Linked DNA regions of Homo sapiens: region 1 is linked to region 2. Evidence: fine-mapped expression QTL. Tissue or cell type: T cells. Region 2 holds a variant in brackets; the other region holds the start of a gene. All regions are shown on one strand. Distances are from middle to middle.

Evidence for each region. PIP is the estimated chance that this variant, and not a neighbour inherited with it, causes the effect.
Region 1: it holds the start of PFKFB3, and the variant in region 2 is fine-mapped to the expression of PFKFB3 in T cells (TOPMed, PIP above 0.99).

What each region holds. Positions count from the first base shown.
Region 1 is chr10:6,196,651-6,207,165 of GRCh38, forward strand. PFKFB3 (6-phosphofructo-2-kinase/fructose-2,6-biphosphatase 3) reads left to right here and starts at 6,282. Exons shown (of 15, transcript NM_004566.4): 1 at 6,282-6,686. The coding sequence starts at 6,611. PFKFB3-AS1 (PFKFB3 antisense RNA 1) reads right to left here and starts at 6,107. Exons shown (of 2, transcript XR_007062045.1): 1 at 5,790-6,107; 2 at 955-1,145. RefSeq lists enhancers at 3,918-4,435, 4,436-4,952, 5,507-6,011, 7,751-8,253, silencers at 4,755-4,974, 6,005-6,334, 6,385-6,494, 6,615-7,124, 7,355-7,434 and a cis regulatory region at 5,945-6,476.
Region 2 is chr10:6,157,749-6,168,263 of GRCh38, forward strand. It overlaps a transcript of PFKFB3 not described here. Among named protein-coding and RNA genes, the nearest start is that of MIR3155B, 11 kb to the left of the region's middle. RefSeq lists a silencer at 5,675-6,154 and enhancers at 6,565-6,674, 8,394-8,893. The variant A/T (reference allele first, on the strand shown) is at 6,211.

The DNA of each region.
Region 1 (10,515 bases), 39 kb after region 2:
GCCTGCTTTTGTTCGGGCCCTGCTGGCAGCTGATTAGATGGTGTCCACCCAGACGGAGGGTGGGTCTGCCTCTCCCAGTCCACTCACTCAAATGTTAATCTCCTTTGGCAACACCCTCACAGACACACCCAGGATTTTTCAATCCAATCATCTTGACACTCAGTATTCACCATCACAGATGGAGTCTTGCTATGTTGCCCAGGCTGGTCTCAAATTCCTGTCCTTAAGCAATCCTCCCCCCGTCACGCTCCCAAAGTGCTGGGATTACAGGCCTGAGCCACTGTACCTGGCTTGTTTTAATCTTTTATACTGCATTTTTACTGTACTTATTATTATTATTATTATTATTTTTGAGACAGAGTCTTGCTCTGTCCCCCAGGCTGGAGTGCAATGGCGTGATCTCGGCTCACTGCAGCCTCTGCCTCCCAGGTTCAAGCGATTGTCCTGCCTCAGCCTCCCAAGTAGCTAGGATTATAGGTCCCCGCCACCATGCCCAGCTAATTTTTGTACTTTTAGTAGTTTTACCATGTTGGTCAGGCTGGTCTCGAACTCCTGAACTCAGATGATCCACCCACCTCGGCTTCTCAAAGTTCTAGGATTACAGGTGTGAGCCACAGCACCTGGCCTTACAGTACATTTTCTATGTTTAGATATACAAATACCTACCATTGTGTTACAGTTGCCTACAGTATTCTGTAGAGTCACATGCTGTACAGGTTTGTACCCTAGGAGCAACAGGCTATACCATGTAACCTAGATGTGTAGTAGGCTCTGCCATCTAGGTTTGTGTAAGTTCACTCTGTGATGTTTGCACAATGACGGAATTGCTTAGTGATGCATTTCTCAGAACATATCCCCATCATTAGCCAACACATGACTGTATTTCTTTTCTTCTTCTTTTGCTTGACCAATAAATTAGGACATCTTAAAACTTTTGAGAAATACACAAAAAGCTCAAGCCATCCTCCACATCTTTTATTTTTTTTTTAAGGAAGATAAAACATATTCATTATTCCTTAAGTGGAAGTGAATCCTCATAAAGGTCTTCCTCTCTGTCGTCTTCATGTTGAGTAGACTGGGAAGGAGGAAGAGGGGGCTGGTCTTGCTGTCTCAGGGGTGGCAGAGGCAGGAGAAAGTAGGTGTACCTGTGTGATTCAAATGTGTTGTTCAAGGTCAACTGTATATGGTTGGCTCTCACGATCTAATATTTTACATAGGAATCTTATATCTCTGTCTGTCATAAATAAAATGAACTTAAAATTTCCTTTTCTTTTACTTTTTGTTTTACCAATCAAGGTTATGCTAGCCTCAGAAATGACTAGAGTTGCTTTTATTCTTTTCTATTTTCTGGAACAATTTACTTAGATAAATCATCTGAGGTCAGGAGTTCAAGACCAGACTGGCCAACATGGTGAAATGCTGTCTCTACTAAAGATACAAAAAAAATTAGCCAAGCATGGTGGCACAAGCCTGTAATACCAGTTACTCAGGAGGCTGAGGCAGGAGAATCGCTTGAACCTGAGAGGCGGAGGTGGCAGTAAGCCGAGATGGTACCACTGCACTCCAACCAGGGTGATAGCATGAGACTCCGTCTCAAAAAAAAAAAAAAAAGAAAAAGAAAAGAAAAGAAAAGGAAATGCCCACAGGAGATGGAGTGACAGGGTCGGGGCAGAGAGAAATGGAAACTTACTGGAGGGTTTGCCGGGACTTAAGTTGAGCAATTTGAGTCACTTCACCCAGAGCCAGGCTATGGCTGCTGTGTATTCTCCTCACATCCACTTAATGAGACACTAAGTCCACTAGATTGGAGAAAAATATATGATATTTGTAGAAAAATAATAATTTTTTTTGAGACAGAGTCTCGCTCTGTCACTCAGGCTGGAGTGCAGTGGCACAATCTTGGCTCACTGCAACCTCCACCTCCTGGGTTCAAGTGATTCTTGTGCCTCAGCCTCCCGAGTAGCTGGGATTACAGGTGTGTACCACCACACCCAGCTAATTTTTGTATTTTTAGTAAAGACGAGGTTTTGCCATGTTGGCCAGGCTGGTCTCGAACTCCTGACCTCAAGTGATCTGCCCGCCTTGGCCTCCCAAAGTACTGGGATTACAGGCGTGAGCCACCACACCTGGCCTCTCCATGTCTTTTCATGACTTGATAGCTCATTTCTCTTTAGAACGGCATCATATTCCATTGTTTGGATGTTCCATAGTTTATCCATTTACCTACCAAAGGACATCTTGGTTGTTTCCATATTTTAACAATTACCAATAAAGCTGGTATAAACATCTATGTGCATGTTATGAATTGGTTTTTCGAACCCCCAACATGACATTGTGTGGATAGTCTCAGTCTCTGTTCTCAATCATGTGTGAGTTACAAATAATTTATTGAAATAAGAGCCCCCTCCCCGTGTCTTTGGCTGGTGATGATGGAAGGGTTTGTTTCAGTGTTTTGTTTGGTGTCTCACTTCTCTCCCTCATACATGGGATTTTTCTCAAGAGCAAATAGTGACACTTGGTGTCTAATGAGCAACTTCTGATTGCTCCCAGACTACCATGCTTGTCACCTCACTCTCTCTGGGGCAGCGGGTAGGTCCTAGCTTGGTTTGAACGTTTTAACCTGGCTATGGCTGGCACAGGATCACGGAAATGCGGTTGCTTGTGTTTGTTGTTACAGCAGCATTTGGAAGCACTGGTAGGAGTTAGATGACATTGGCTGGCACAGAAGTGTGGGAACAAAGGTGATCCTGGAGAAAAACCACTCCACTGTCCTCTCAAGGCTGGACCGAGCTCAGTGAATTCAGCTATGTGAGCACCTCACCAGGCACTTGCTTTTTTTTTTTTCTTTTTTTGTGACAGGGTCTCACTCTGTCACCCAGGCTGGAGTGCAATGGTGCAATCACAGCTCACTGCAACCTCTGCCTCCTGGGCTCAGGTGATCCTCCCACCTCAGTCTCCAAAATAACTGGGACCACAGGTGCGAGCCACCATGCCCAGCTATTTTTAAATTTTTTTTTTTTTTTTTTTTTTTTTGCAGAGATGGGGTTTCATGTTGCCCAGGCTGGTCTCTTAACTCCTGAGCTCAAGCAATCCGTCCGCCTGAGCCACCCAAAGTGCTGGGATTACAGGTGCGAACCACTGCACTGGCCAGGATCATTTTCAATAATTGCCCTGCTAATGTCTCATTCTACTCACGGAAGGTCCTTCTCTGACCTTTCCTTCCCAAACAGCTCAATTGTTCTAGGTGAGTCTGAATCACAGCCTGATCAGCGGCTAAATTAGGATTCCACTCAGCACCCTGGGGTTAGGGTGGCCCTATAATGAGTCTCCTAGGGAGCTAGCTATCTGCGTCCGTGTCAAGCAGAAGGGAAAAACAAAAACAAACCAACAAAACCAACAAAAACCCCAGCAAACTCTGCTCCTAATTGGCTTTCTTCTTTGATCTCTGACCTGGTTCCTTGACTACTCTAATCTCAACTCCCTTTACTTCTTCCCATAAAGCAAGTGGGGTTGACTAGGTAGTCTTGAAGTTTCCTTCTATCTTTCATAGTTTCTAGGACCACGACCTAGGAGAAATCATCAATCTGCGCTAGCCTTGGTGTTATTGTAGCTGTAAAAGAATCATCGTATTAGAGGAACATTTACGTTATTGGGAGCGTTTTCTGAAGGGCCGCCTTTGTGATACCCAGGTTAGTAGGAGGGAAGTTGGCCAAGCCCTAGTTGGACATTTGGGGTGAAGATGGGGCATTAGCAGAGCTAGGGAATGAGTTAGGAGGATGTCCAAACTAGTAAACTCGGAACCAGTAAATTACCAGAATACAGTTGCAGTTGGGTTGTTTATAAGTGATTTTGTAGTGAAGCAGTTTCATCTCTCATGAGGGCTCTACCCTAACTTACCTGGGGCTGTAAAGGCTGCCAGGAGTTCTAGCTGGCCATTAAAAAAACAAAAACAGGTGTGCATTCGTCCTTGCTCCCACGCACTCCCAGTTTGCACTTAGATGTAAGGAGCGGGGGGGGGGGGGGGGCGGGGGGTGGTGGTGGGGCGGGGATTGAGTTAACTTCCTTTTGCCTGCTGCAGAGCAAGTGCAGGAGGCGAATGGGGGAAGAACATAGTCTTCCCTCTAGACTCGGAACGCGTTATTGACAGACAGGAAAAGTGCCCGGTCTGCGAAAGTTCAGCTGGACCTCCGGGACATCAACTCCCTGTGCCCTAAGAGCTGACCGCTGTCAGATGCGTTATCTAGGTCAAGAGATGAATGATGTGCCGCTGCTGGGGCAGACGCCGTCTCTCTGCTCTCCCTGTGAGCTGAAACCAGCAGTGTTTGCAAGCTTGTAGGGAGTGTGGAAGAAGGCCCCCTGGTCCGCTTGCCTCGCCTGTACGTGTGCAAAATCGGTGGGCAAGCAGCGGGCGCGCAGGTGCACCGTCATTCCCCAGGAACCGCGGGCGCTCTTTGCAGGGGTGCAGCCGCTCTCCCCGCGCGCAGCCTACAGCCCTCCCCGACCCCCGCGAACCCCAGGGCGGGAACTCGTCCCGGTGGCGCGGGCGCTCGCTGCCTGCTGTTTCCCTCTTCGGGTCAGCCCACTCTTATTTCAGGAGTGGAGTGGGACTCTCCCCTGGGCGTTTAGGGTGTCGCCTCTGGCATGTGCTCCCACTGCAGAAAACAAGTCCAAATGCAACGCATCGGGTTTCTGAACAGCCGCCAGAGCGCGGAAACCAGACCGTCAGCAAAGCTGTCGCGGGAACAGGGGCTCTGAGAGGGCGGCGCGGGGGGCGGGGTGCCGGAGTGGGGGTCGAGGCGGGAGGGGGAGTGGGGGTCGAGGCGTGGGGGAGGGTGGCGGGGCACAGGCCAGGTGGCCGATGTTGCGCGTTCCGGGGCCCCTCGGCAGGCGGCGGGTCGGGAGGAGTGGAGGCCCGGGTGGGGCGGGCGCGCGGGGCGGGAGCAGCCCCGGTCGCCGCCTGGGCGCGGGCGCCCTCCCTGTGGAGCATGCGGGACGTGAGCGACGTGTGGCAGCCTCTGCGCAGACTTTTCCGCCGCGGTGTAGGTTTCAGCGAGCGCCGCCTTCCCTCCAATCACAGCCCAGCCTCAGCGCTAAGTGTGCACCTCTCTGCAAGGCGGCGCAGCGCTCCCGTACTGAGGCTTCGTTTGCAAAAGTTACATCCGTCCCGGCGCGGGCGGCGGTTCCCCACCAAAAGCAACCCAGATCTTCCCCGCACGCCTCTGACCTGACTGCACGACTGTCACAAGTCGCGAGCTGGTGCAAACTGCGAGGGCCGGGAAAGGAGACGGGGCACGCATGCACCAAAAAGTGGGGAGGCAGAGCTGCAGGGTGTGCAGGATAACGGAGTGAATTTTAGGAGTCTGCCTAATAAGGGGCCGCCCCCAATAGTTTTCCCTCGACTTAGGTAATGAATTGCAGATCGAAATGGGTCTAGTTTTATTCATTCTTCTACTCGGGGCGATAAAGGTTTATTGAATGGTGTACATGGTGAGTGTGAAAACCAGATGCCAGCTGCCCCCAGCCCCAGTCCACTTCAGTCCAGCTCCCCGGGGCTTTCCCGCCCCCTCCTCGTACCCAGCACCGCGGGCCTCTCAAGGTTCCCAGTCTTTGGGCTAGGGGAGGGGAGCAAGGCTCAGTTCAAGTCCAGGTTTCTAAGGGATTCAGCAAAGTGGACAAGGACGAGGTGAGGTGGGAGGATCAGGGAAGCCTCCTCCCCGCGGGTCGCCCGGGTCGTGGCGGGGGATGGGCTCACGGGTATTATCAGGGAGCAGCCTGGCCCATGTCCTTACCTGGACTGCGCCTGCCCCACAGCGCGTGTTAGGAATGCAGAGTATTGGGGCTCCATGGCCCTAAAGGAGCTGCATTGGTAGGATGCACTTTAAGCAGCTTCCCAAGGGATTCGGCTGCGGGGTCCACGGTCTACACTGGGCAGGACTGCGTCTCTGCTCTCCTCCCGGCCAGCACAGTTGAGGTGAGGGGCCGGAATTAGTCGGGGAAGCTGTGCCAGACGTCCCGAGGGGACAACGGGACGAGGGGATAACAGCAGCCAGGACCCTTCAGCAGGGCTGGGCGCGCTCCAGGCCCGGGGCAGGGCGGCGGGAGCTGGTGCACCGCCGTCGCCGGCCCGCAGGGGGAGCTCGCAGGCTGCTTCCCGGCTCGCCCACCCTCCTCCCCACGTGGAAGGGGGCTGGGACCCAAGGAATGCGGCCCGCCCCGAGGCTGACGTACGCGTCTGCGGCCAGCCCGGACTCTTTAAAAGCCGGCGGTGCGCGGGGCATCCCAGCCAAGCCGGAGAGGAGGCGAGCAGCAGGGCCTGGTGGCGAGAGCGCGGCTGTCACTGCGCCCGAGCATCCCAGAGCTTTCCGAGCGGACGAGCCGGCCGTGCCGGGCATCCCCAGCCTCGCTACCCTCGCAGCACACGTCGAGCCCCGCACAGGCGAGGGTCCGGAACTTAGCCCAAAGCACGTTTCCCCTGGCAGCGCAGGAAACGCCCGGCCGCGCGCCGGCGCACGCCCCCCTCTCCTCCTTTGTTCCGGGGGTCGGCGGCCGCTCTCCTGCCAGCGTCGGGATCTCGGCCCCGGGAGGCGGGCCGTCGGGCGCAGCCGCGAAGATGCCGTTGGAACTGACGCAGAGCCGAGTGCAGAAGATCTGGGTGCCCGTGGACCACAGGCCCTCGTTGCCCAGATGTGAGTGCAGCTGCGCGGAGCCGGGTTGCAGGGCGGGCTGCGCCGGGCCGGGCCATTGTGTGGGGCGGCTTTGTGCCGACGCCCCTCTGCGGGGGGCGCGCCCGTGCGGGTCGCGCCGGCGGGGCGGGGCGGAGGCGCGGGCTGCGCGTCCTTGGCCGGGCGGCGGGGGCGCTGTGGCCCTTGTCCCGGTGGCTGCCCCGCCGGCCCGGAAACGGCGAGTGCGCCCGGCCGGGCTGCGTACCCCGAGACGGAGGGACGCGCGCGCCTGGGCAGGCCAGGGAGGGGATCCACATCCTCCGCGATCCCTGTCCTCGACACCCGTCTCGGGCGGCCGTCGCCGGAGCGCAGCCCAGGGACCCGGCCGCTCGCGCCTCCGCCCCTTTTCACCGTCCGGATCTCCTCTCTCTGCATGTTTCCATCTCCTCTCCCGCCTTGCTATGCATTCCTATCCCCTCGCTTCACTTAATAACCTATTTCTCTGTCCTGTTTTCTCTTTCGATATATATGTCTCTGTTTTTCTCTGTTTCTACCTCCTTCCTCTCCCACTGTTTCTTTCTGCTTTTATCTCTTTCTCTCTCCTTCTCTCTCTTCCGTGCATCTCCAGTGCCATGGGGGCGCCCGTGCTGGGGGCGCCAGGAGAGCCACCTGGAGCCACGCCTGTGTCCCCGGCTTTGGGGAGGGTCGGTGGGTTGGTGAGTGCACGGTTGGCGCTGCTCCACGCGCCCCGGGCGCACGCACCCCCCGGTGCTCGGAATTGGCTGGCAGTACCCTGCCCCGCCCCGCCGGTCGCCGCCCCCGCCACCAGCGATCGCTTGGGAGAGGGTTACCTCGAGCTCCACCTCAGCTGCGGAGCGCCGCCGCGGAAAAGGGCGGGTGGGCAGCGCAGAGGGGCGACGCTGCCTCTCCAGGTAATGCGCCCCGGCTCCCATGGGCTGGACAGGGAGCCGCCTGGTGCGGTTTTGCCCAGGTCAGGTCGTAGCCTGAGTAGTGACCGTGGGATCCAGGTGCAAACTCTCGAGGTGGCTTCGGGTCATCCGAAGGCGCCTGAGCGCAGGCGGCTGGCAGGCAGGGTTGCCCGGCTACTACGTTTCTTAGGACGGCCCCCGCGGGACTTGGCAGCTCTCCTGGAGCCCTGCTCGGTCTGAATCACCGGCCTCGTCCAGACCTGCCCCTCTCCCCACACCCACCCCCATGGTGTGCCCTGGGTGGGGACGTCAGCAGATCCACCCTGGTGGACTTCAGGGTTCTGGGGTAGCCCTCAGGAGAGGTCTTGTTCCCCCTCTTTGTGAGGTAGCCCAGGACTGGGGGATGTGGGTGTGTTGCCCAGCCCAGTCAGATGCGCTTGAACTGGGGTGGCCCATGGTTCTCTTGTCTTTGTGTAAAACCTGTAAGTGGAGTGGAATGCAGCTCTTAAATCCCCAGGGAGGTTTGGCCAAGGCCAAATGCAGAAACAACTTTTGCATAAAGCAAGTATTATCTCTATAGCACTTTGTAAACTGCATTGGAGGCTAGTCCCACATATGTAAATACATGTGATTGTATACGAATGCCCACGGGTCTGAGAGGAGTGTCCCGTGACTTCCAGGGCTCTGAGATCTGTTGGCATCAGCTCAGTTGTGATCTTGAGAACTCCAGCGTGCACCAAGGCGTCCTCCCTCCAGGCTTGGATCCTGATCCATTAGACCCCATCAACCTGCACGTCTCACACGCAGTGAGAGATTTGCCTAAGAATCCCTGTCAGAATCATTCAGAGCTGGAGGGTGGGAATTTGGCTAAAGCCAATGGATTAATTCTTTTGTCCCGCCTACTGCTGGTATCCTCCTGTGTGGCTTTGAGGTATAGTCTCAGACACATTCCTTCTTGTAAAAAGATCCGCAGCCTGGGTATCGCACATCCTTATTTCAAGTGGTGGTGTCTTTCTCAGTTTATATAGTCACATTTAACTCTTACTGGAATGGAGGGAAGAAGGTGTTTCTATTTGGTATCTTTCCTGACACCCTCCCTCGATTCTCTAATGGCATTTGGGACATTGGGTGGGTTTTTCTTTCTTCCTTTTTTTTTTTTTTTTTTTTTTGACATGGCGTTTCACTCTGTCACCGAGGCTGGAGTGCAGTGGTGCGATCTCGGCTCACTGCAACTTCTGCCTCCGGGTTTCAAGCGATTCTCGTGCCTCAGTCTCCCGAGAAGCTGGGATTACAGGCGCACGCCGCCATGCCCAGCTAATTTTCATATTTTTAGTAAAGACGGGGTTTCACCATGTTGGCCAGGCTGGTCTTGAACTCCTGACCTCAAGTGATCCGCCCACCTCAGCCTCCCAAAGTGCTGGGATTATAGGCATGAGCCACCACGCCCAGCTGGGTGGGTTTTCTTTCTCCTAAACTTGTTGCCACCTTTATAAGTGGCCTTCTCATTGGAGGTCTGCAGCAGAGTTCCCTGAGGTTTATTATTTATTTATTTATTTATTTATTTATTCATTTTTGAGGTGGAGTCTCACACTGTCACCCAGGCTGGAGGGCAGTGGTGCGACCATAGCTCACTGTAACCACCAACTCTTGGGCTCAAGTGATGCTCCCGCCTCAGCCTGTCCAGTAGCCGGGACTATAAGTGTGCACCACCACACCCGGCTAATTAAAAAAAATTTTTTTTTTTTTTTAATTGATCATTCTTGGGTGTTTCTCGCAGAGGGGGATTTGGCAGGGTCATAGGACAATAGTGGAGGGAAGGTCAGCAGATAAACAAGTGAACAAAGGTCTCTGGTTTTCCTAGGCAGAGTGTTTGTGTCCCTGGGTACTTGAGATTAGGGAGTGGTGATGACTCTCAACGAGCATGCTGCCTTCAAGCATCTGTTCAACAAAGCACATCTTGCACCGCCCTTAATCCATCCAACCCTGAGTGGACACAGCACATGTTTCAGAGAGCACAGGGTTGGGGGTAAGGTCATAGATCAACAGGATCCCAAGGCATAAGAATTTTTCTTAGTACAGAACAAAATGAAAAGTCTCCCATGTCTACTTCTTTCTACACAGACACAGCAACCATCCGATTTCTCAATCTTTCCCCGCCCCTTTCCCCCCTTTCTATTCCACAAAACCGCCATTGTCGTCATGGCCCGTTCTCAATGAGCTGTTGGGTACACCTCCCAGACGGGGTGGTGGCCGGGCAGAGGGGCTCCTCACTTCCCAGTAGGGGCGGCCGGGCAGAGGCGCCCCTCACCTCCCGGACGGGGCGGCTGGCCGGGCAGGGGCTGACCCCCCCACCTCCCTCCCGGACGGGGTGGCTGCCGGGCGGAGACGCTCCTCACATCCCAGATGGGGCGGCGGGGCAGAGACGCTCCCCACATCTCAGACGATGGGCGGCCGGGCAGAGATGCTCCTCACTGCCTAGATGGGATGGCGGCCAGGAAGAGGCGCTCCTCACTTTCCAGACTGGGCAGCCAGGCAGAGGGGGTCCTCACATCCCAGACGATGGGCGGCCGGGCAGAGACGCTCCTCACTTCCCAGACGGGGTGGCGGCCGGGCAGAGACGCTCCTCACTTTCCAGACTGGGCAGCCAGGCAGAGGGGCTCCTCACATCCCAGACGATGGGCGGCCAGGCAGAGACACTCCTCACTTTCCAGACTGGGCAGCCAGGCAGAGGGGCTCCTCACATCCCAGACGATGGGTGGCCAGGCAGAGACGCTCCTCACTTCCCAGATGGGGTGGCGGCCGGGCAGAGGCTGCAATCTCGGCACTTTGGGAGGCCAAGGCAGGCGGCTGGGAGGTGGAAGTTGTAGCGAGCCGAGATCACGCCACTGCACCCCAGCCTGGGCACCATTGAGCACTGAGTGAAC
Region 2 (10,515 bases):
AAGCAAAAGGTCATGTTATCATGACTGCTTTATAGGAAATGGATTTCTTAACCTTCTAAAACTTTTGAAAATTCATTTTTGAATGAGTAATATGTAACACATGGCCTGACAGTAAATCCCAATCCACGTTATGGAAAAACCGACTTGACTGAATAAGCAGGCAGTCCATTGTTTCTCTGTGGTTGTGTTCTTTTCTCTGGCTTCTGTGAGAAATAACTGAATGACGGGTAAAGCCTTTTAAAAGTCAGGCAGTGTGGCTGGGCGCGGTGGTTCATGCCTGTAATCCCAGCACTTTGGGAAGTCGAGACGGGTGGATCACGAGGTCAGGAGATCGAGACCATCCTGGCTAACATGGTGAAACCCTGCCTCTACTAAAAATAAAAAAAAAAAATTAGCCGGGCGTGGTGGCGGGCGCCTGTGGTCCCAGCTACTTGGGAGGCTGAGGCAGGAGAATGGTGTGAACCCGGGAGGCAGAGCTTGCAGTGAGCCGAGATTGCGCCACTGCACTCCAGCCTGGGGGGACAGAGCAAGACTCCATCTTAAAAATAAATAAATAAATAAGATAAAATAAAATAAAAGTCAGGCAGTGTGTAACAAAAGGAAATAAAGAAACTTCACCTCTTTAGTGATCAGGAAAATGCAGATTGAGACCAAAATGAAGACACGTTTCACTCTGTGTGCCCGGTAGAAATGAGGAAGCCTGATGGCTTTCAGTGTTGACAGAATGTGGACCACAAAAGCCCCTCACACATTGCTGGTGGGCCGATAAGTGGTACAAATGCCTTGGAGGCAGTTTGGTCTTTTCTTTGGTGTAAAGTTGAAATTCACATACTTCGGCTAGGTGCGGTAGCTCACGCCTGTAATCCTAGCACTTTGGGAGGCCTAGGCAGGCGGATCACCTGAGGTCAGGAGTTCAAGACCAGCCTGGTCGACATGGTGAAACCCCATCTCTACTAAAAATACAAAAAGTCAGCCAGGCATGATGGCATACACCTGTAGTCCCAGCTACTCCAGAGACTGAGGCAAGAGAATCGCTTGAACCTAAGAGGCGGAGGCTGCAGTGAGCTGAAATCGCAGCGCCACTGCTCTCTAGCCTGGGTGACAAAGCAAGACTCCATCTCAAAAAAAAAAAAAGAAATTCACCTACTCGAAACCAGCAATACCGTTCCTAGTATTGCTGATGTTCACACAATCATGTTCATAGCAGCACTCTCATAGAAAAACCTTTACACAGCACAAATGCACTTTGACAGGAGGATAAATTATTCTTAGTATATTCACACAAGGCAATATTATAAATAAGCTACACTCAAATAGACAGCAACTCTCAATATTGTTGATGACTATTAAAAAATCCCAAAACAGGCCAGGCGCTGTGGCTCTCACTTGTAATCCCAGCACTTTGAGAGACGGAGGTAGGCAGATCCCTTGAGGTCAGGAGTTCGAGATCAGCCTGCCCAACATGGTGAAACCCTGTTTCTACTAGAAATACAAAAATTAGCCAGGCGTGGCGGTGGGCACCTGTAATCCCAGCTACTTGGGAGGCTGAGAAGGGAGAATCGCTTGAACAAGGGAGGTGGAGGTTGCAGTGAGAGGAGATCGCGCCACTGCACTCCAACCTGGGTAACAGAGCGAGACTCTGTCTTAATTAAAAAAAACAAAAAAAAGCACCAGGCATGGTGGCTCACACCTGTAATCCCAGCACTTTGGGAGGCTGAGGCGGGGGGATCACCTGAGATGGGGAGTTTGAGACCAGCTGTCAAGAAACCCGTCTCTACTAAAAATACAAAAAAATTAGCTGGGTGTGGTGGTGCATGCCTGTAATCCCAGTTACCCGGGAGGCTGAGACAGGAGAATCGCTTGAACCCGGGAGGAGGAGGTTGCGGTGAGCCGAGATTACACCATTGCACTCCAGCCTGGGCAACAAGAGTGAAACTCCGTCTGAGGAAAAAAAAAAAAAACAAAACACCAAAAAACCAAAAACCAAAAACATCAAAATCATTACATATGGTAAGGTACTTTTTATTTATTTACTTATTGAAACAGGGTCTCGGATTGTCACCTAGGCTGGAGTGCAGTGACTCACTGCAGCTTTGACCTGCCAGGCTCAAGCAATCCCCCCACCTCAGCCTCCCCAGTTGCTATGACTTTAGGTGTGTGCCACCATGCCTGGCTATTGTTTTTTTTTTTAATAGAGACGAGGTCTTGCCATCTTGCCCAGGCTGGTCTTGAACTCCTAGACTCAAGCAATCCTCCCGCCTGAGCCTCTCAAAGTGCTGAGATTACAGGCATGAGCTACCATGCCCGGCCTACGATACTTTTTAAAATAAAATTAAAACAACTAAAACTAAACAATGCTTTTTAGGAATATATACATAATAAAACTATGTATTTTTACAAGATTCAGGATAATGGTTACTTCCATTTGAAGGGAGGCAGAAGCAGAGGATGGGGGAATATACAAATACATGTCACTTAATGTCAATAATTGAGATGTCAATTGGCTGATGGGGTCATAGTTGTCTGTTATATTAAACAAACAAATACAAAAGAGGGCCATTCAGGGATCAGTGATGAGAGCCTGAGATGAGGCGAGGACTGTGATTGCTCCCACCCTCTCTACCTGAGGTCCAGAAAGCAAGAAAGAATGAAGAGTTCCCTTTTGACCTGTTACAAGATCAGCAGTTTCCTGGGTGCGGTGGCTCACGCCTGTAATCCCAGCACTTTGGGAGGCTGAGGCAGGCAGATGACCTGAAGTCAGGAGTTCGAGACCAGCCTGGCAAACACAGTGAAACACTGTATACTAAAAATACAAAAAAATTAGCTGGGCATGGTGGCACGCACCTGTAATCCCAGCTACTCAGGAGGCTGAGGCAGGAGAATTGCTTGAACCCGGGAGGTGGAGGCTGCAGTGAGCTGAGATCTCGCCATTGCATTCCAGCCTGGGCGACAAGAGCAAGACTCTGTCTCAAAAAAAAAAAAAAAAAAAAAGAGGATGAAGCAAATATGGTAAATATGGTAAAATGTTAATAACTAGTGAAGATATATGGAGATTCTTTGTACTACTTAAAAATTTTCTAAATTTGAAATTACGTCAAAATGAGAAGTTAAAAGAGAAATGACAGGTCACTTCTCCAGTCATCTCCCAACCTTGATGCATTTGGCCTTTTTTTAAATTTTTTTAATTTATTTTTTTATTTTTTTGAGATAGAGTTTCACTCTTGAAGCCCAGGCTGGAGTGGAATGGTGTGATCTTGGCTCACTGCAACCTCCGCTTCTCGGGTTCAAGCAATTCTCCTGCCTCAGACTCCCGAGTAGCTGGGACTACAGGTGCCTGCCACCATGCCCAGCTACTTTTTGTATTTTTAGTAGAGACGGGGTTTCACCATGTTGGGCAGGCTGGTCTTGAACTCCTGACCTCAGATGGTTCACCTGCCTTGTCCTCCCAAAGTGCTGGAATTACAGGTGTGAGCCACGGCGCCTGACCTCATTTGGCCTCTTCTTTCTGTTGCTCAAACACTCAAGACTTACGACTCAGGGCCTCTGCAAGTTCCCCCTGCCTGGAGCAGTGATAGGGTGACTCTTTACCAGCAATATGAGGATCCCATTTGTTTGGATCATTTGTAAAGGTAACTTTTCCCATTTGTAACTAAAAAGTTATCTGTGGAGGGATCCTTTGCAGTCACTCACAAAGTGTGAATAAAATATCCTGTTCCCAATAATCTTTATAAAAAATTTAAAAAATTATTTTATTTCATTTTGTCATGTCCTTGAGTCATAGATATATACACACATATGTATATATATACACACATATGTATATATATACACACACACATATATATATACACACACACATATATATACACACACACACATATATATATATAGAGAGAGAGAGAGAGAGAGAATCTCACTTTGTCACCCAGGCTGGAGTGCAGTGGTGCCATCAGGACTTGCTGTTGTCTAGAATTCCTGGGCTCAAGCGATCCTCCCACCTCAGCCTCCCGAGTGGGTGGGATTACAGGAGGGTGCCACCATGCCTGGCTAATTTTTTAATTTTTAATTTTGTAGAAACAGGGTTTCACTATGTTGCCCAGGGTGGCCTTTAATTTCTAATGTAAACATTTTTAATTGTGGTAAATACACTTATAATTTACCATCTTCAACATTTTTAAGTATACAGCTCAGTGGTGTTAAATATATTCAGTGTTGTACAACCATCACCACCAACCATCTCTAGAACTTTTTCATCCTGCAAGACTGAAACTCTGCACCCATTAAACAATAACTCTCATTCTTCACAATCCCCAGCTCCTGGCAGCCACCATTCTTTCTGTCTCTGAATCTGACTATTCTAGGGAACTCATGTGAGTGGAATCTTACAACATTTGTCTGTTTGTGCCTGGCCTATTTCACTTAGCATCAAGTGCTCACGGCTCATCCACGTTGTAGCATGGGTCAGAATTTCCATCTTTTTGGAGGCGGAGTAATGTTCTGTGTGTTTAGTCACATTTTGTGTATCCATTCATCTGTTGTTGGACACATGGATTACTCTACCTTCTGGCTGTTGTCAATAATGCTGCTGCGAACATGGGTCTACAAACATCTCTTTGAAACCTTGCTTTCAATTCTTTGGGGTGTGTATATACAAGGAATAATCTTTTATTTCATAGCTTTAGCATCTATTGATGATTCTTGAGTGAAACACTTATCAGAGTGTCCGTAAAATGGCTATTTACCATTTTTGTCATTCTTTCCACATTTATTAGTTGGCATTCTTTTGTAAAGAAGCTCTTTCCTGCCCATCCTCCCTTTTACTAGCTTTAATTTCATCATCATTATTAATAGTAGTAATAGTACCAATGTGGACTCCGGGATTTTTAAAATTATGACTGCATGTGTTAGAATCCATTCCTGACATACTCAATTGATGCTCAAGCCACTCCCAGTTTGGGTGAGAACCCTTTCAGGCTGGCTGCTGTGTCCTTGACACGCCCCCTTCAGCTTTTGAGCTCTGTCTTAACTCCTGTTCCAGGCTCCTTGTGTCCTTCCCAGTCTCGGCCTTGGGAGCAGCCACTCCTCCAAGGATCCCTGGGTACTTTCAGTGGAGGATGGTCCTTAGAAGGCTGGATCTGGGCTTTTGTGTGCCTCTTCTTGCTACCGGAGTGTCCGTGTTTCCAGGGCGTTTTTCATGGATGGAGCTGGGAAACATTTTAAAATTGTAAATTCAAACGGATCAGTTATTCCAGTCCAGCAGCACAGAGTTCTTCCTCTCCTTCCCCCGTCCCATAATTGTATCTTTCATTTGCTTTCTGTGTTTTCCCCAGGAATGTTGTCTTCATCTTGAATCTCCTTTGCTACTGGCTGTACTCATTAGCAACATAAAATTCCTCGTGATAACCTCTGACCCCTATCCCATGTGTGATGACACCGAGTTGAGGGAGATCAGACATTCAATGCAGAGGTGGGGGCCAAGACCAAGCCTCCTGGGGCTTAAGAAAATATCTCCAGAGACGGGAAGTCTGGAAGGGAACTCCATCACGAATATTTTATGTTCCCTCCCTCTATTGTTCTCAATCACTGCACAAGTGTATATTACTTTTTTTAATAACAAAAAGGAACTTTTAAGGTAACCCCCCACAACCCTATATAGACTGGATGTCAACTCTTTAGTCCTAGATACACCTGGAGCCTGGCGTCGTGGGGACAGAGGCAGGTCCCTGTGCTGAGGGCGGTAAGACAGGGCGGGTAGGTGGGGACCCAGCTGGGAGGTAGGGGGGCCAGACGGGACATCAGCTCCCGGGAGCCCCGCTCTGGGCACGGTGCGCGCCTCCACCCTCCATTGCACCCCGCGCCTGCTTCCTCCCAGGTGCACCTCGGGCGCCTAAGCCAGCTGGGTCCCGGGCCCCGGGAGCAGCTGCGGGCCCGACGGGGGCGTGGCGGGACCGGCGGGGGCGGGGCCTGGGGGTGGTCCGCGCGGATTGGCTGCTGCCTGCGGCGCACGAGCCGGTCAGCGCGCACCCCGCCCTTCCCGGGCCGTGCGGCACGCCGCGTTCACGTGCTGTCGCGCGCCCTCCCGGCGTGCGCCGCGCGGCCCCAGCCTGCTCTGCGGCGACTGTCCGGCTCGTGAGCTCCGCGTGGATCCGGCGCTGGGCCCCCTACGCTCTGGGGACCTGGGGTTGTGTTTCCGGCAAAGGATGTTTTCCG[A/T]GAAGGCCTGGGAGCGGCTGTAAATAATACCCGAGAGGAAATAGGCCCGGCAGGTGTTTTTGCGCGTCCCGGCGTTGGGTGTGGCTGCGGCGGGCGTGCAGGCCGCAGATGAGGAAACAGACTAGGAGGGATTTAGGCATCTGGACTCTGCGGGGCGGCCCGGGCGCGCAGCCCGTTTCCCTGTGGGTTGAGGGCGCGGGAGAAGTGGGCGGCCCACCCCACCCCGCGCGTGGATGCGGGGCTGGGGCAGGTCCGCGGTGGAGGCGCCGCCAGTGAGCACCCGGGGACCGCTCCTAGCCCCCAGTGTGGGACACAGACTCCCTGAGGACCTCGTATGCGTTGGGTCTGTGGCTCCATCCGAATCTTCATGAACAGGGCCTGCGGTGAATTTGGGGAGAGTGAGTGAGCGGGTGAAGGGTCAGGAAATAAGTCACAGGAGGCATGGTTGAAGAATTGGGGATGTTTAACCCAGACATGGCAGGACTGGGCACACTTGACCCCTGTCTGGAAGTATTTGAAAGACTTCTGAAGGGGGCCAGCCCCTCCACACCTGTGGGTGTTTCTCGTCAGGTGGGAGGAGATACTGAGAAAAGAAATAAGACACAAAGTATAAAGAACAGTGGGCCCAGGGGACTGGCACTCAGCATACGAAGGACCCGCACTGGTGGCCGTCTCTGAGTTCCCTCAGTATTGATCATTATTTTTACTATCTTGGCGAGGGGAGTGTAGCAGGGCAACAGGTGGGGAGAAGGTCAGCAGGGAAACATGTGAGCAAAGGAATCTGTATCATGAATAAGTTCAAGGAAAGGTACTGTGCCCTGATGTGCACATAGGCTAAGTTTATGTTTCCCTTTACTCAGACATCTCAGTGTAGCAAAGAGTAACAGAGCAGTATTGCTGCCAGCATATCGCCTACAGCCACAGGGCGGTTTTCTCCTATCTCAGAATAGAACGAATGGGATTGGTCTGCTTTACACCGAGACATTCCATTCCCAGGGATGAGCAGGAGACAGAAGGCTTCCTCTTATCTCAACTGCAAAGAGGCCCCCTCTCTTTCACTACTTCTCAGTACAGACCCTTTACGGGTGTCTGGCTGGGGCACGGTCAGGTCTTTCCCTTCCCAGGAGGCCATATCTCAGGCTGTCTCAGTGGGGGGAAACCTTGGACAATACCCAGGCTTTCTTGGGCAGAGGTCCCTGCAGCCTTCTGCAGTGCATGGTGTCCCTGGTTAATCGAGAATGGAGAATGGCGATGACTTTTACCAAGCATACTGCCTGCAAACATATTGTTAACAAGGCACATCCTGCACGGCCCTGAATCCATTAAACCTTGATTCAATACAGCACATGTTTCTGTGAGCATAGGGTTGGGGCTACAGTTACAGGTTAACAGCATCTCAAAGCAGAAACAATTTTTCTTAGTATAGATCAAAATGGAGTTTCTTGCGTCTTCCTTTTCTGCATAGACACAGTAACAATCTGATCTCTCTTTTCCCCACAACTTCCTTATGAGGAAGAGGCTAGACTTTCCTTCTCCCTGGGGGCACAAAACAGATTTTCCCAGGTGGAGAATTTCAGGTCAGTTACACAGAGCCGGCAGGGATGAACATGTCTGGCGTTCTTTGCAGGAGCCAGATGTTTACCTATGTTAGTGGGAGAATAGTGGAGCTCAGATGCAAGTTCTCATCTGCCAGACTCCAAAGCCCTTGCCTTTTCTCGATGCGTCTATTTTTTTGTAAATGTTTTAGTTCAGAGGTACATGTGCAGGTTTGTTATATAAGTAAACTCGTTTGTTGTAGATTATTTCATCACCTAGGTATAAGCCTAGTACCCAGTATTTTATTTTCTTTTTTCTTTGTCTTTGTTTTTTTTTTTGAGACAGAACCTCACTCTGTCGCCCAGACTGAAGTGCAGTGGTGCTATCTCCGCTCACTGCAACCTCTGCCTCCCGGGTTCAAGCGATTCTCTTCCCTCAGCCTCGTGAGTAGCTGGGATTACAGGCGTGGATCACCAGGCTCAACTTTTTTTTTTTTTTTTTTTGAGACGAAGTCTCACTCTGTCATCCAGGCTGGAGTGCAGTGGCACGATCCCGGCTCACTGCAACTTCCGCCTCCTGGGTTCAAGCGATTCTCCTGCTTCAGCCTCCCCAGTAGCTGGGATTACAGGTGCCCCGCCACCACGCCCAGCTAATTTTTGTGATTTTTAGTAGAGATAGGCTTTCTCCATGTTGGCCAGGCTGGCCTCGAACACCTGAGCTCAGGTGATCCGCCCGCCTCGGTCTCCCAGAGTGCTGGGATTAAGGTGTGAGCTACCGTGGTAGAGATGGGGTTTCGTCATTTTGGCCAGGTTGGTCTCAAACTACTGACCTCAAGTGATCCACCCGCCTTAGGCTCCCAAAGTGCTGGGATTACAGACATGAGCCACCGCCCGGCTTAGTATTTTTTTTTTTCTGAGCCTCTTCCTCCTTCCACTCAATGCATCTATTTTAGTGGAATGGGTTCCTTTGTGAACAATGATGTTGCAGTTATTCATGAAGTAATAAAGTGTTTGTGTATTGATTGATTTCTTTGGACTGGAGGGTTTGCCCAGCCCTGTTGAGCTTTGTCATTGTCTACCTCAGGGGAAGAGGGAGATTGTCGCTGGTCAGAGGAGAATGCCAGGGCTTCTCTCAGACGGAGGCAGCCTCCCATCTCACCGCAAGTCGGATCTTGAGTAGCACCTGTTTCGGCCCATTGCCCCTTTAACAAGGGGCCCAGGTGCCCTTGGACTTGCTAGAAGAATAATCATGACTTTGAGTTTAACAAATGTGGTCACAGTATTCCACTGCAGTCCACCTTTCCCACTTCTCCTAGCCCTTCTTCTTCTTTTTTTTTTTTTTTTTTTTTATTTGAGACAGAGTTTGGCTCTTGTTGCCTAGGCTAGAGTGCAATGGTGCGATCTCAGCTCACCGAAACCTCTGCCTCCCAGTTTAAAGCAATTCTCCTGTCTCAGCCTCCCGAGTAGCTGGGATTACAGGCATGCACCACCATGCCCTGCTAATTTTGTATTTTCAGTGGAGATGGAGTTTCTCCATGTTGGTCAGGAACTCCCCATCTCAGGTGATGGGCCCGCCTCGGCCTCCCAAAGTGCTGGGATTACAGGCGTGAGCCACCTTGCCTGGCCTCCTAGCCTTTCTTTTTTGCAAATCTGACACTCCTCCCCTCCACCCCATGTGCCTAGACAAGGCCAGCATGGGACTCACACAGGAAGAGCTGAGGACTGGAGGAGTGAGTAACTTTTACCTGAGTACGTTTCAGCCCTCCAGGTGGTACCAGGTACAGTCCTCTGAGAAGTCGGGAGGAAAACGCCTGTGCGGGTCTCATTCAGCTCTGCGGTCCTCAGTGTCTGTCTGATACTGAGTCTGTAGTGAGGATGCATAACGGGGTAACCCTTTCTGAGCTCCTGGATTCATTTGCTGAATTAATAGCTTCATACTCTCTGAAGAGAGGAATACTTTAGGAGTCTCTTTTTTGTTTCTGCCACATTTATTAAATTGTCACATTTTAACACATTTTAAGCCATTTTAACATCTCTTGAGAGAAGGTAGGGGCTGTGGAATGTGTATAAAGAGACAATATCTTGTTTTTCTTGGATCCCTAGCTAGCAGATGTGATTACAGTTTCTTATCAAGAACTCAGCCAGAAAATACCAGCCAAACCCTCTTCCTCCATTGGATTATCTGAGGCAGCATTCGTATCTGGTGGCCTCTCTGCTCTGAGCAGTTTGTGGAGCTCCAGAAGATGTCTCTGATGATCCTCTTTTCTTCCTTTCAAGGGATTTCCTAGATTATTCATCCTAAACCTTGGTCTCATTCCTCTCCTACGCCCTTAGGTGTTAAGGAATTGGATATCTATGGAGATAGCCAGCCCAGCCCTAAGCGACACTGTAGAGAAGGTTAAATTTTGTTTCTCTTTGCCTGTTTCTGGTCCTTTGTCCCTTGCTAAGTCCCTAGGTCGTTCCTGCTTTTTTCTAGGTCACATCCTCAGCTTCTTCATCTGCGTCATCTCTAAATGACAGATAGTAGCTCAGTTTGCATTTTAACTGATAGCTGAGATCTTTAACTCCAGAGATGCTATCTAACCATTTAGGGACAGGTTAAATCACATTGTCTTCTTTCCCTAGCCTGCCCCACTCTCCAACCCCAGCATTTTCATACAGAGGGGCAGCTTAGGTAGGGGTGACTAGAGGTAGTGGGAGGCTGGTGGAAGATCATGAGGTAGTGAGTCCTGGAATCCTCCACTTTGCTCCCACTTGCTGAGCGAGGGCC